2 linked regions of the Homo sapiens genome follow. The protein of the gene in region 2 interacts with the protein of the main gene of each other region in a biochemical or structural test. Each region holds a gene or a part of one and is shown on either strand. Other genes may lie near its edges.

Region 1 (7,000 bases), on a different chromosome or scaffold from region 2:
GGACAATTAGCTTGATGAGTCTGGATGCTCCAACTTGTAAAAGCCTCCATTTCCCAAGTCGTTCCTCTAGAGAGGACCTCTCCCTCCCATTCCCCTCGGCCAGCCTCTCCATCCATCTACAGGGGCACCGCTGAGCCAGCCCTGCCGCCCCCCCGACAGTCCTTCCTGGAGTCTAATCTTAATTGCTTCTGTTTCCTCAGCCTCAGCTCCGCCTCAGCTCCCCAGCGGGCCGCTGCTCACCCTGGCCCGAGGCTGTCTGCGTGTGGGGCTGCTGGTCATGCAGGCTCTGGCTGTCCACGGAGATGCCACTGTCGCTGTGGAGTTTTTCTCCCTCTGGTGGGGGCGTCTGGTTCACTGGCCGGCTGTTGGCTCCTTGCTTGTTCTGCTTGCAGCTGTTCCACCTGGAGCCAGAGGACAGGCCAGGTTTCAGGGGGCGAGGGGCTGTAGTGGCCGATGCAGCTGAGTATCTGTGCTCTGCCGTGTGAGGGCCAGGGGCATGGCGGGTGCCCAATTATAACCGCCACCCCACCATCTAAGGCTCCTCTTTGCACATCTGCCCCCACCTACCCTGAAAGCTCCATGAGGGCAGAGGGGCCCTCTGTAAGTGTTCAGTAAATGTTCCTGGAATGAGCAGTGCAGCAAAAGTGACTGCTCAGGAACTCCTCTTCTCCCAATCTACCCTTCTAAAATACTCCCACATGTGGGCAGTGACATATAAAAGGATTTCCTCTGCAATTATAAGCAATAACAAAAAACTGGAAAAAAAAAAAAAACAAATGTCCATCAATGGGGACTGGCTAAATAAATTACCATCCATCCATACTATTGAATGAGTGGTTACAAATGATCAGCTAATCTACATTCCTGAGGAAAGGTCTCCTGAGGGAGACTGAGTGAAAAAAGTAAGCTGTAGAATATGTACAATGTGATCTCACTGATGCCTAAAAAGCCCTCCATGTTTACATGTAATTATAAAAGGTTTATATACATGTTTATAAAAAAAGACACACAGAAAATAGTTGGGAAGGATCCATTTCAAACAGATTCCAATAAGGAGAGAAGTAGGATTTGGGGAGATAAAAGGGGGCTTTTACTTTTTGCTTTGAAAGATATTGGTCTTGTTTGCATTTTCCTAAACACGGATGTGTTACTTTGATGATTTTTTTTTTTTTTTTTTAGAAAGAATGGAAAATGCATTTAAAGCTTTAAAATGCCTTCTGGGAGTTCGTGCACATCCTGGATTCCTGGATGTGGGTGCCACAGCATTCCCAGTGTGACAAGCGAAGGGGAAGAGACATATGCACACGCAGGTGACTGTGGGGTGAAGGAGGTTGGGGATGAGGACACAAGCAGTTGGGGGTGGGGAGTCAGGGAGTGGTGCGGCATGGGAGTGGGAGGGGCTGGAGCCAGGACAGGGCAGGAGAGGACAGGACAGGACAGGTGGATCCTCTCCCCTCACCTCCTGCTGACCTGCTGCACCCTGGAGTGGGGCGGCAGATGATGAGTGAGGATGAGCTTGGTTTGGGGTTGAGTTAAAAGGGTGTGTATGTTTTCAGGTCAAGGTCACAGCAAAGTCTTCCTTGAGGGCAAACATCTCCCCTCTCTGTCGCCACCGTGCCCTCTCTTACCTCTTGAAGGCTATGTAGGCCACAAGGCCCACAACCACAGCAGCCAGGATGGAGCAATAGACAGGGATGAGGTTGTCGGTGGTGCCTCGGGTCACCACGGGCTGGGAGCTGCCCATCACTGTGGTCACCACACCTGCCACCGTGCTGGCTATGAGGTCTTGTTCTGGAGGTGCCTCAGGCTCCTGGGTGCTGGGGGCTGTGCTGTCCGAGCCCTCTGGGGGTGTGGACCGTGTAATCCAACGGCCAGGGATCTCTGGGAGAAAAGGCCACAGGAGTGAGGACCCACTTCCCCCACTCCTCCCTTTTAGCTCTAACCCACTGCCGTGTTCTTCCTGTGTCCCCGCCCTGGCTCCAGGTGCTCTTGTGCCCAGCTGTTATGCACAGCTGGGATTGCGTGCATGATGTCATGATGCTAAAGAGCAAGGCCTGTGGGCCCACAGAGCTGCATCTCCTTCAGCTTCGCCACTGACTTGCTGGGTGACTCTGGCCCAGCCCCCTTTTCTCTCAGAACCTTGATTTCCTTATTTATCTAATGGGGCTATTAAGAGAGACAGTCTCTAAGCTCCCTTCCATCTGGGGCTATGGTCCTGGAATTCTATTCCACCTCCTGAGTACCTAGAGAGGCCTATCTAGGAGCAAACACACAAAGAAGCCTGACCACAGGGAGGCCTTGAGCTGGAGTCACTCTGGGAAATGTCTCTCTGGCCCCAGCTTGTCCTTGATGACCCTAGTCACTCCTGTCCTAAGGAAAGAAGAGGGTACACAGGTCTGGTCAGAGAGGTGCTTCCCCCACACCACCTCCCTGAGAGCACTCCCCGACTTTTTGACCTCATGTCTCAGGCTCTAGGCTTGGGTGGAAAGGAGGGGTGCGGGGGCAGCTGGATTGCCTCCCTCCAGCCAGCCCTTGGACAGTGGCCAGCCTCTGTTTCCTGTCTTGCCTGGCTCCCACCTAGCCTGATCCTGCCAACCAGAGATGACAGCATCAGGTAGCCCCAACCCTCCTTGGTCAGGAAGCAGAGAGCCAGTGGAGAAGGGGCCCATGAGGCAGGTCCAGCTCAATGCCTCAGCTGGCGGGGGGAGACTGTGACTTGCCACCCACCTAGACCCTCTCATGCTAGCTGGGCATTGCCAGCCTCCCTGGCAGGGGACCCAGCCCTTCCTGGCACCAGTGGGTGGGATTTTCCATTCTGCCACACAGCCAGGGGCAGTGCTAGGGGTTGTGGGCTCTGGACGGCCTGGGGATACTTGTCTGGGCAATGTTGCCTACCCCGTCCCTCCTCACTTCCCACGCCTGGGGCAGGGAGGGAAAGCAGGCAGGACATGCCAATGGGGTGAAGGGGAGGGTAACTGGCTCCCAGCTCTGCCCTCCCAGCCCCCACTTTGCCCACCCAAGCAGGAGTAGAAGCTGCCACCCATCTTCTGGCCTCTTCCACTCAAGATGAAATGCTTCAAAGGCCCGTTTTCAGCACCTTCTGAGGGGCAAAGCCCCCAGATGTGAATCTAGAATCCATCTGGCTGCCAGCAGTGAGGGGCTGCCATCTGTCACCCAAACCACCCTTCCCCGTCTCCGTCCTGGGAGGGGCCAGAGGTAGTGAAGGAGACAGAGCCCTGTCTTCTGGCAGCCCCAGGTGGAGCATTGGACTGGGGAGGGTCTTCTCTTGCTCTGCCAGGGGACTGGGCAAGCTGGGGGGCAGCCCAAGTCCAGAGGCTGGAGACACAGCTCAGCTCAGACTGACCCCAAGCCAGAGGGTGAAGGAGTGTACATGTCCGGGTGCCCAATGAATGAGACCATCACCGAGATCAGAGCATGGTAGGGGAAGGCTGGGAGGGTAGCAAGGCGTGGCCAGACCAGAGGCGGCACTGACTCTTGGGGAGCTGCCCTCATCTCTCCAATCCCCTCTGACGGGGGCGGGGGGATGAGATCCAGATGTGGCCACGTCCACTAGCATTCCAACCTACTAAGCCCTTGGCAGGTCCTGACAGCCATTTCCGGGCTGCATGGAGGGACCAGGTTATCCCTATTCAAACCGAATTTCACTGGGGCAGCGGGTAGCCCTTCTGCCCTGAGGGTGGGTGAGTCACCATGTTGACACCTGAAACGTAAGTAAATGCGGGGAAAGTATGGTACGCTGGAGGGGAGGGGGCAACAAAACCAAGAATCAAATTCCATTTCCTGAAATGGTCTCTTGTCCCAGAGCTGACATTTAACCCTTCAGAGCCTGAAGCTGAAAGGGGAACAGGGTCTGGTATGAACACTCCCTCAGGAGCACCCTCCTCCTTCGGGGTGGCTGGGAAAGTGGGCTGGTATCTGAGAGGAATCTGTGAATGCCCCAAAAGACAAAGCCTGCTCCTCCCACAGTCACCACCTTTCTTTGCTCTAGCAGCGCCCCCAAGTCCCCCCGCCCCGCCCCCAGCTGGCTGGTCTGGACTTGCCTACAGAAATGAGCTGCCTGCTTGCCTGATGCCTGGCTGCTGAAACCCTTCCTGCGCTCTGCCTGGCGCCTGATGCCACTTGCCTGTCTCCTGGCCCAGGGCAATTGCCAACAGAACCACCACATCCTACTCCTCATTCCTTCTCCAAGGCAGGAAGCTTTGAGCTCAACCTGGCCTTAGCCCAGCGTAACAGCCCTCCCCATCCTGAGCTCCTAAAGCCAGAGATGGCAGGACTTGGAAGGCAGGTGTGGGTTGGAGCCCCTATCAGACTGGAGGGTCCCCAGGGGCAGGAGATCTGGGTGCTAACTGAGGCAGAAGCTCTGCTGCCTCCATCAGAATGGGGGATCTCTAAAGTGAGAGCTATCTCTCCTTCAGCTGGGGACTAAGTGCTGGGACCACGTCTCTCTCATTAGACTGGGCGAAGGCTATCTCTCCCATCAAACTGGGGGCTCACTGAAGGAGGTACTATATTGCCTGCTCAGGGTAAAGGCAACCTGAGGATGCAGGTTAGTTCTCAAAGGGAAATAGCTCAATGTGTGCATGGCCACAGGATGATGGACAGGATGTAAAGGCACTGCCAGCCTCTCCCCGAAGTGGAAAAGCCCACCAGTCTCCCCTGAGACGGACGTCACCAACCAGAGACCAAAACAGCTCTGCCCTGGCTCCCACGGGGCTTCCTTCTCCCATCCCAAGAACCACCCCATCTCCTTGGGGCCTGTGCTTGGCTAAGGTGGGCACGCCCAGCTCCCATCCATCCCTGGAGCTGACAGCCACGAGCATGCACTGCCTTGTCCCCGGGCTTTTGAGCCCCAGGTCTGCCCCTCCCCTCCTTCTTCTTCCACAGAGCCCCTCCTTAGTGTTCCCTGCATGCCCCTCATCCTTCACTAAACTGCGGAACACGGTTGACCCCTCCCCTAGACAGGGCAAGCTGAAGTGGGCCAGCCCCACTGTATTCCCTAACCCGCAACAACCCTGGCAGCCATATGACCAGTGAGGAAACCGAGGCCCAGAGACAGGAGTGGACTCCCTAACGTCAGTCAAGGACAGGGTGGGTTCCATCTCAGGTCCCAGAGCCAAAACCCACCATGGACCTAGACCAGGGCTCAGAGTCAAAGGGTCCCAGCTCCTGAGGGTCCTCAAGCTGCTCTTCCAGTTCAGAAAGCCTGCCTCATGGATCAGACCTCTCCCGTTCTGTGCCCTGGGGGTAGTGGCCACCTTCGAGCTGCTTGCTGTTCAGCTAATCACTAGCGGGAAGCCACAGAGAAATGCGTCCCGGAGGATGAGTTACAATGTAGTACCCGCGGCCTGGGACGCTGAGAACGCCCACTTTCCAAACAGCCCAAAGAAGGTAACACAGAGAGGGGTTCTTTGCTGAGACAGGATGGGGAATGACCTCCTCCCTTAGGTTACCAGGAAAGGACTGAAGCTCAGGGAAGGTGCACGCTGCCTCAAGGTCACCAAGCTGCCCCAGCAGGCCAGGCAGGGTCCTTGTCGACCTCCAGAGAGCGCCCTTCCTTATGCCCCCAGCCCACCCCCGCACCCCCACTCCCCCCGCCCCCCGAACCGCACTCACCCTCGCACTCGGCGTCGGCCCAGCGTGTGCACTCGCGGAGCTGGCGCTCGGTGTCCTCGCACACGGTGCAGGGCAGGCACGGGTCCACGTGGTTGGCCTCGTCGGAATACGTGCCGTCGGGGCACTCCTCGCACACGGTGTTCTGCTTGTCCTGGCAGGAGAACACGAGGCCCGAGCCCGCCTCGCACACGCGGCACGCCTCGCAGCGCCCAGTCGTCTCATCCTGGTAGTAGCCGTAGGCGCAGCGGCACACGGCGTCGTCGGCCTCCACGCACGGCGCCGACATGCTCTGGAGCCCCACGCACTCGGTGCACGGCTTGCACGGCTCGGTCGCGCTCACCACGTCGGAGAACGTCACGCCTGAGCGCAGCGGACACCAGATTTAGTCGTCTGCTCTTTTGGGCACCCGGGACGCAGGAGCTGGAGTCTCTCCCTCCCCTATTGCCTGCCAGGACGCTGACTTCCTCCTTCAGCCTTCTCATCGGCTCCCACCCTCTTCCAAGGGACCCTGACCCCTAGCCTGTGAAAGTTGGTGGCAGCCAACTGGGAAAGGGGGAGGAGGCCCGGAGCCGCATCCTCCAGGCTCCAGAAGCACTGGCCGGCCGGGAGGCTTTCCGGCATAACCCAGCTGGTGCCGCTAAGTTTCTTGGCAAATTCTCTTTGAGAGTTCCCAGGCCTGTACTATGTTCCCAGCATGATTAAGGAATAATCTGAACGTGGTTCCCACCCAGCCCTCCCCGCGGGCCAGAGCTGGGCTGCTAACCCGGTCCAGGCAAGGTAGGCCTTCCCCTAGGGAGCCTCCTGCCTCATCTGCCTTCAGTTCCTCTCCACACAGGTGTGGGCTCAGATGCAGCCTAAATGGGAGTGACCGGGGTTAGACAGCAGAATTTCCCACCCATGGCACTACCCCCATGCTGCTGAAGGGCTTGGATCCTGAGGGTGGGGACGGACCTGCAGGCAAGAGGGCTCAGGTAAGGCAGGAGCCACTGAAGCTAGAGAGCTGGCTCTTAGCCCACACTCACTCTCTCAGATGGATATTGTTGAGCAGTACACAAGCTGCACAACTATATGATCACCCTTTTGAGATCTGCACATGCGTCGTCTGCCCTTTCGGCCAGGATGCAAGGGAGATGTCCAAGCTCATTCTTCACTCATGTTTTCTTAATTACTGGATGTGCACTCCAGAATAAGGAGAAGGAGGCTGGGCACGCCAGGGTCCTTGCCTCCTTGTACAGGGAGGGGAAGGAACAGGGCCAGATCTTCTTCACCCCTTCCAGCTTTGGGTGGGGAACTCTGTGCCACCCTGGATCTGGCAGGACCTATCCTTGCTCCAAGGACAGGAAGAGCATAGATTTAGGAACCTGAG
Region 2 (8,535 bases):
CCTGGCATGTAGCAATTGCTCTCTCTATACATATACAATTGCTATATACATGTGTATATATTATATCATATTGTGTACCTATATATTTGTATTTTTATAAGCTTATAGTAAGCTATTTTTCATGCAGTTAGCCGGTCATGACAAACAAAAAGTCATAACACAAAAATGATGACAATAAATATTATCACACAAAAAGGGAGATATTTGAAAGAAGAGCATTAAAAGACATAATAAATAGAACATTTTACTGGGATTATTACTTTTTAATCTAACTGTAATACGTGGGCAGGCCACTAACTTGCCCACCTCCCCCAGTAGTGTTCTGAGTACCCTGCCACGTGTACCCAGGCTCCAGTACCTGATGTCCGTTATGTTCACATGGCCAAGGATCCCAATGGGATAAATACTTCTTGGAACAGTATCATGAGATCATCATTTTATACATTAACAAAGCCTGTGCTGTGGACTTGGGCATGCAGAATAAGAATGTGAAAGACAAAAGGCATTTCCTCCCCACCCTGGATGGGGATTATAACATAGTCTCTACTGATTCCTGGCACACCCTCCAGTCACCCTTCAGGATGAAGGGCTGAACCTCATGCCATTTCATGAATTTACCTGAAGTCTTTTTAGCATAGCTAGCAGAAGAATAAGGAATCCTGTATTGGTTATCAACTTGAGACTGCTCCTAAGCCCCATTATAAATTTTATCTTTTTCAAAGTAGCCAAACTTAAATTGTCAGGTCTTTAGTTGCAAATCCAGTGCACAATTTTTAGGGTAGGTTGAGTTTGATGACTTATTTTTTATTTTGGTTTTGGAGACAGGGTCTCACTCTGTCACTCAAGCTGGAGTGCCGTGGCATGGTCACAGCTCACTGCAGCCTCAACATCCTGGGCTCAAGCCATCCTCCCACCTCAGCCTCCTGAGTTGCTGGGCATACAGGCGCACACCACCGCCACACCCACCTAATTTCTTGTAGAGATGGGGTCTCACTATGTTGCCCAGGCAAATCTCGAACTCCTGGACTCAAGCAATCCTCCCACCCTGGCCGCCCAAAACGCTGGGATTACAGGCATAAGCCAGGGTGCCTAGCCTGATGATTCAAGAAAAGGAGCTGGGCCCTTTCTCAGTTAGTTAAGGCAACCTACCATTTGATTACATCAAGACCTTTGTTTAATTACCTACCTCATGCTAAAAGGTAAAATAAATGGAGTATTGCACAATGACTTAAGATTTAATCTGGGAATGGACTCTGTGAGGCATATAATAATCAGATGTGTTAGAAGCACCTGAAACATAGTAGTGGATAGTAGTGGATCTAAAGCTGTGAAAAAGGAAATGATGATAGTTCTCACTCCACTGAACTAGGATCAGTGTTCCCATGGACCTAGATGTGTTTCTCTCCACACCAAGACTGTCAATCCAGGTTCATTGTCCCAAGAGACTCCCCGACTACTGCTTACCATCCACCACACTTGTTTCACTTGTTTCAAAGATATAAACCTTGGCCATGCCATTAATAAGTGGGCAGAAAAGAGTTTCTGAAGGGAGACTGGGACTTGCCTCATTATAAATGCTAACAGTAACAAACTTTTATTTAGTCTCTCTCTTCCTCTTAAAACACACACACAAGGAACCAGAGTGTCTGTAGGATGAATTCCCAGGCCATAGCAACTGCAATGTCCTGAGATCTAAGCAGTTCTTGGCTGGCCAGGCGTTAAGCCCTTTTGGGGAAGGAGACAGCAAGCCTGCTTTTCCCTTACACAGCCCTGTCGTGAAAACAAGCTCTTGTTTCTTGGGGGTTTTTTTGTTCGGTTTTTAGCTAAGAATTTCCATCCCTCCTGCAGTGATAAAAGATAGGCAAGGGAAGCTCAAGGGTTTGATCTCAAATTTTCTTCCACCTAACTTGCCCCTTCACCCCAATATTTGGAAATAAAGGGAGGGAATTTGGGGGAAGTTGAGGGTAAGTTTTTGGTCAAGATGATTGACCCGAGATGTGGATGCAGCTTAGACGATGAGGGAGACTGCACCACCCTGCAGGGTCACCTGCCTAGCCACAGGTAAACGAGGGATCGGAAAGACTGTAGAAAATTCATCTTCCTTCACACACATCTCCTTCCCCCTCCCCCCATTCCAGTGCCGGCGCGCTGGCTGGCTGGAAGCCGGCGCTTTGGAGGCGCCGGAGAGTGGGTCTAAGGGTGATATTTCGGCATACAGAACCTGAGACCCCACCCGAGCCAAGAGGGAAGAGAGAGGGTAAAGGGATTGAGGAGGGGGCGGCTTGCGCCCTGCTCGGGAATGCACCGCGCGACAGCACCCGGAGGTCTCCGGTGTCCGGCGCGCACCGGTACCACTGTCTTCCACTGCGGTAGCATCCCGACATGACATTGCAGCTGCAACAAAGCGCCGGCCTCGGCCGGCCGTGGGAGCCCCACACCGCGGCGAGGCCCCACACCACGCAGAGGGGCAGTGGCCGATGGGTGGGGGGCTGTGGCTGCGGGCGTGGGGAGCGCGAGGTAGGCCGAGTAGGGGGAAAAGCCCTCAAATGCGCAGAAGCTGGGCGGCTACCTCTAGCGTCTCCTCCAGCAAAGCCAGACTGCAAGGAAAACAATTCGTCTTCATTCCCCAGCCCCGGCTGAGCCCTGAGATTCCCCCAAATAACCTAGTCGAGGCCCTCTGGTGTGTTGCCTTCCCTTGGAAACCCCTCAGTGCCCGTAACCCAGTCGGCCGGGCCCCGCGCCTCCCTAAGCCCCGGCCCGGTGACCCGCCCGGCTCCCGGAGAGCGGTTCCTTCTGCTCCGGCGCCGCCGCCACCCCCGGTCCACGCAAGCGCTCACCAGGAGAAGGGAGCCCGCGATCATCGTGGCTGTGGCTCGGCGGGCGATGCGGCTGCAGGAGGCGAGGGCGGTGCTGCTGCTCGGAGAGGTCCCCATGGCTGAACCGGGGACTCGCAGGGGCGCCCGGGGCGCGCGGGGCAGCTGGAATCGGCGGCTGCTTCTGCCCAGCGCCGCATCCACCGCCGCCTCCCGGGCCGGGAGCCCATCTACCTCCAACACCCCATGTGCACTGCTGCGGCCGGGCAGAGGAGGGAGGCGGCAAGGGAGGCTCTAGGGGCGCTCAGCACCTGCCCAGCGGCGCGGCCGCCCAGGCGGGGAGAAGCCGCCGCGACTGCAGCCCGCGTCTCCGGGTGCTCTCCTCCGACAGCGGCTGAGGAGAACCAGGGAGGAGGACTGGGCGCGAGAGAGCAAAGGAACGACTTCCCATAGCGAAGCTTCCAGCCACTGCCAACCACCCTCCTCCGCTGCCCAGACTGGTCGGCGAGGGACTGAGTCGGTGGCCACCGGGCGCAGGGACACACGTGGTGGCGCCGAAGGGGCGGGGGACCGGCCCTTTGTGATGTCACCCGGGAGGAGGCCGGGCTCTTTGTGCGGTTGGAAAGGCGAAGGCGTTCCAGGTAGAGCGGGGAGGGAGAGGGTGCCCCTTGGCGTTCGCTGAGGAAATTGCACGCGCCTGTTGACCCAGGGAAAGCGCTGAGAAAGCATCTCACTCCTGATCTAACTTTACTTATTTTTTCCGAGATAATTCCAACTAAATTATTTCAGCTACATACGCCTTTCCATTGTTTCGGACACGATGATTAAATCAGAGAGCGATGGTGAATAGACCACAGAGCACTTAGATCAACTGCGTGACGAAAAAGGAGACCTGTGTGTTGCTTCTCAAACTTTGCTGCCCTGTGGAATCACCTGGAGAGTTCAAAACATATATATTGATTCTTGGGTCCCACCTCTAGAGACTCTGATTTAATTGGAACAGGACAGGATCTGGTCTGGGCATTGAGGTTTGTTGTTGTTGTTGTTTGTTTGTTTTTTAAGTTTTCAGGGTGATTTTAATATGGGGCAAAGATTTTAATTTTTTATATTTTAATTTTAATATGGGCTTATGAATGCAATTAAGGAAATCCAAACTAAAAGGATTTAAAACCCAGAGTCATTGGTGTTGGGTCCATGGATGGTCTTGGAGGGACTTTTGAACTCCTTGAAATGTATCAAAAGATGCATTTTCCTAATTTAAAAATCAAGAGTTTTGAATCGGATTATCCCTGAGATTTTTTTTAATCACCCTTCCCCCAAAAAATAATGCTAAAAATTTTTGAGTTGATTTCCAAAGGCCTTGTCAGGATGTGGGTGGTAGAATAGGTAGTATTCTGCTTCAGAAGGAGAACTGGAATATTCTCGTGGATGTTGGTATCTCACACACTTCTGAATGTAAGAGAGCAGCTGTTATCCTTTTCTTTGTTTCACCTGGGGGAAGGCCGAGTCTCCTGACTGTGGCCACCATTTCTGGTATCGTGTTATCCATCATCTAGGTACTGACAGCACATGGCACACTGTATTGATATTACCTCTTCAGCCATCCAGTCCACACCCCTCAATTGGGAGCCCTATGGTGCTGGGCTTATCCTAGGCTCCTTTGGTCCCATTTCAAAAGAATCACACTTTTTAAACTATCAGTTTCAAGATCCAACACCCAGTGCTAATAAAGGTAACTTGCTAAGTCATAGGTACCAATTATTTGCTTTATTAGTTAACATGTTGTCCTTTGATTCTTTGCTCTATGCACACTTTGGTAGAAGCTAAAATTAATATGAGGGTTAATTCCAATCTATTATTTCAAACATTTGTCAGTATTGTCTATAAATGTTAGAGTGGGAAAAAAGCTACAATATATAACCTCTAGTGAAATTCAAAGGAGTTCTAGAAAATATTACCATTAATTATGGAGTTTTGGGGAAAGGATGATGGTTGGACTTGCCACTCTCTAGCTATTTTCAGAAGTTGAAAGAGTGAGGGATAGATGCTGTGTTTTCATGCATAACTGTATCAATTTTTTCTTCAAAAATTCAAATGACTGGCCAATACTATTATAAGGTTGGGTTGTTTTTTTTTAAGAAGTTACATAGGTATTAAAGAGGAGGAGGAGCTTCAAATACGTTTTTATTTAGTCCATTTTACTCCTTGCATCCAAACTCACATTTTTCGTGGTAATATATGATTGATTTGCTCTAAAGAGTTGGGCAACTTTAGAGTTTAGTGTCTGGGTTACTATGCAGGTATAAGAAGTTCTTCTCAACTATTTGTCTTCCTAAAACTAAAAGAAAATTGTTTATTTGTGCTTGGACCACTTTGAAACTTCATGAATTCCTGGTGTTCCATTGATCATATCAAGTTGAAATTTAATATACATTTTGAGAGATGAAAAAATTTACTCAATTCTGTTTACTACTAACATTTAAATACATGTCCCTCTATAGAGTGATAGATTATAGATAATTTGAATCTAGATGCAGTGTGAAATTTTATTACTTTGAATTGAAATGTATACATGCCTTCCATTTTGAAGTAACAATGCTGCAACCATTAAATAATTCATTGCCACATTTTCAATGTGGTAACTTAGACATGTCTGTTTTCTGGGAAAGGATAAAAATTCAATGATACATAAGGAAGTTTCTCCCAAAGTTCCAAGGAAAGAGGAGATATGTGTTGATAAATCATAATTATAGCTAAATTTTAAAGGAAGGCCTAAATGAGTTAATCCAATGTCATCTTTGCCATAAAAATTACTCTATCTCCACCCTCCATCCTACCTTTGGACTTTCTCTCTTTCTGCCAATGTTGTACAATTTTTCTAGTTTTCCAACCTCAAAAATCATTGCTAATTCTTTCCTCGTCCTTAGTACATTCCAATTAATGCTTTCCTAACCTTTCATTTTTTTCTATTTTATCTTTCTTGTTAAAAATCTGATATATACATCTGGATACTGAAGAAATCACCAGAGATTGCGCCACTGCAGTCCGCAGTCCGACCTGGGCGACAGAGCGAGACTCCGTCTCAAAAAAAAAAAAAAAAAAAAAAAAAGAAATCACCAGATTTACCATCTTGTCTTAATTATTTTTTTAACTTATCCTGCACACTTTCAGAAGGTCTAGTAAAATTTCATGTTCTTTATAATGAAAATAACAATTGTCCACATTTTGAGAAATGACTGCTGCATGACAAACATCCTGAGCCGATCTATGAGGGAATGACAGAAAGTTGGCAGGAAAATGCCAGCTCCGTTGGGGAGACCCTAACCCAGTGGCGCTAGAGGAATTAAAGACACACACACAGAAATATAGAGGTGTGAAGTGGGAAATCAGGGGTCTCACAGCTTTCAGAGCTGAGAGCCCCGAACAGGGATTTACCCACATATTTATTAACAGCAAACCAGTCATTAGCATTGTTTCTATAGATATTCGATTAACTAAAAGCATCCCTTATGGGAAACGAAGGGTGGGCTGAATTAAAGGAATAGGATGGGCTAGTTAACTGCAGCAGGAGCATGTCCTTAAGGCACAGACCGCTCAAGCTATTGTTGGTGGCTTAAGAATGCCTTTAAGTGGTTTTCCGCCCTGGGTGGGCCAGGTGTTCCTTGCCCTCATTCCTGTAAACCTGCAACCTTCCAGCTTGGGCGTTAGGGCCATTATGAACATGTTACAGTGCAAAAGAGATTTTGTTTATGGCCAGTTCTGAGGCCAGTATATGGCCAGATTTTGGGGGGCCTGCTCCCAACATGTCCCCCTTCTCTGATTTGCAAATCGATAAAAGCAAAGGCAGCTTTGTCATGGTGAGCTACTTCTCGCAGGAGTCAGGTTCCACATCTGCAGACTATACAAAGACAAACAACACAGATTAAAAGCACAAACGTCATTGAAATCACAGAGCTTCCAAGTGTTTTTATCCATTGTAATGGGTTACTAGCTGCTAATTTGTCTGTAACTCCTTCAAGCACTCCAGTTCCTGGCATTAAGGTCAGGTGTGCCTGCGATGCTTTAAACATTTGTTCTTTTAATTTTAATTCCTTATGTTAAGCTCCTAGAGCGGGCTATATCATTTGAGGCTGAGGTGCTGCTATACCACCATGGTTCCAGGTAATGGGAACTTTTGCCGTAGTTCTTATCATTTCTACCATCTGACCGTTTTGTTCAGATCATCTGAACATAGTGTGGCCGTGGCATGCAGACTGAGAGGTGCAATTCAAGCTAAACGTCCCCTTAGGGGACGAATTAATAATGATTCCATAGGAATCGTTGTGCAGCACCTCTGCCTGTTCTGCAATGCAATCTTCCTAAACAAGTACGTTCATTTTTTCTAACTGGGTCCAATCCTGTTTACAAATAGGTTTTTGTAAACCTATTCTGCCCCAATTTTTTTTGTAAACCTGATTCTGCCCCAATTTTTTTGTAAACCTGATTCTGCCCCAATTATAGGAACAGAATCAGAAATCACATTAATAGGCATATCAAAAGCAGTCAATACCTCAATTATAGCTACAAGCTCTGCTTTTTGAACTGAAGTATAGGGCATCTGAAAAACTTTACCTTTTGATCCAGAATAAGAAGATTTACCATTACTAGACCCATCTGTAAAACAATGAAAACAGGCTGCATGTTGTTTACTGCAGGAATTGTAAATGCAAACTGTTCACAGTCTTGCTCAGCTAAAGGGATAGTAAAGAAACAATCTTTTAAATCTATGACTATTAAAGCCCAATTTTTTGGAATTATAGCAGGAGAAGGCAATCCTGGCTGTAATGCTCCCATAGGTTATATAACTGAATTGATAGCTCTGAAGTCAGTTAACATTCTCCATTTACCTGATTTTTTCTTAATTACGAAAACTGGAGAATTCCAAGGAGAAAATGCTGGAGCTATGTGCCCATTTTCTAATTGTTCAGTAACTAATTTCTCCAAAGCCTCCAGTTTCTCTTTACTTAGCGGCCATTGTTCTATCCAAATTGGCTTATCTGTTAACCATTCTAAAGGTATAGGTTCTGGAGGCTTAACAATGGCTGCCATCAAAAATGATATCCTAATCTTTGGCGGGAACTTTTTAAACCTTGCAAATTTTTTTTTCTAGTCCTGTTCCGGGTACATACCCCATTTCATGAATCATATGTTGACTTTGAGGGCTATATAATTGTTCTGGAATTAGAATTTGTGCTCCCCATTGTTGTAATAAATCTCTTCCCCATAAATTTATAGGTACAGAAAGTTATAATTGGTTGAATAGTCCCAGGTTGTCCATCGGGCCCTTCACAATGCAAAATATAACTACTTTGATATACTTCAGGGGCTTTACCAACCCCAACCATGTTAAATTGAGTGGGTTGAATTGGCCACGTGGACGGCCAGTGCTGTAGAGAAATGATTGACATGTCTGCTCCTGTATCTACCAAGCCTTTAAATTTCTTTCCCTGAATAGTTATTTCACAGGTAGGACGTCTATCAGTAATTTGATTTACCCAATAAGCTGCTTTGCCTTGTTTATTTGTGCTTCCAAATCCTCCTGTTCATTTAATTTCACTTTTTCCCATTCCCACATATGGCACAATCAGGAGCTGCACTATGCGCTCTCCTGGCTCTGCTTTCCAGGAAACAGAAGTAGATATAACAATTTGAATTTCCCCATTGTAATCTGAATCAATGACTC

What was found. Proteins that work in one complex are often made in the same cells at the same time.
Region 1: the proteins of TNFRSF21 (region 2) and NGFR form a complex in vitro, tested with the Homo sapiens proteins (one study listed by IntAct).

What each region holds. Positions count from the first base shown.
Region 1 is NC_000017.11:49,505,293-49,512,292, reverse strand, and holds part of NGFR (tumor necrosis factor receptor superfamily member 16 precursor), read right to left. Parts: intron 6,637-7,000; exon of another isoform or gene 5,995-6,636; coding exon 5,635-5,994; intron 1,882-5,634; coding exon 1,629-1,881; intron 1,477-1,628; exon of another isoform or gene 1,393-1,476; intron 1,311-1,392; exon of another isoform or gene 1,180-1,310; intron 402-1,179; coding exon 241-401; intron 1-240. UniProt on the Homo sapiens protein: Low affinity receptor which can bind to NGF, BDNF, NTF3, and NTF4. Forms a heterodimeric receptor with SORCS2 that binds the precursor forms of NGF, BDNF and NTF3 with high affinity, and has much lower affinity for mature NGF and BDNF.
Region 2 is NC_000006.12:47,306,579-47,315,113, forward strand, and holds the start of TNFRSF21 (tumor necrosis factor receptor superfamily member 21 precursor), read right to left. Parts: upstream 3,328-8,535; 5' UTR 2,934-3,327; coding exon 2,838-2,933; intron 1-2,837.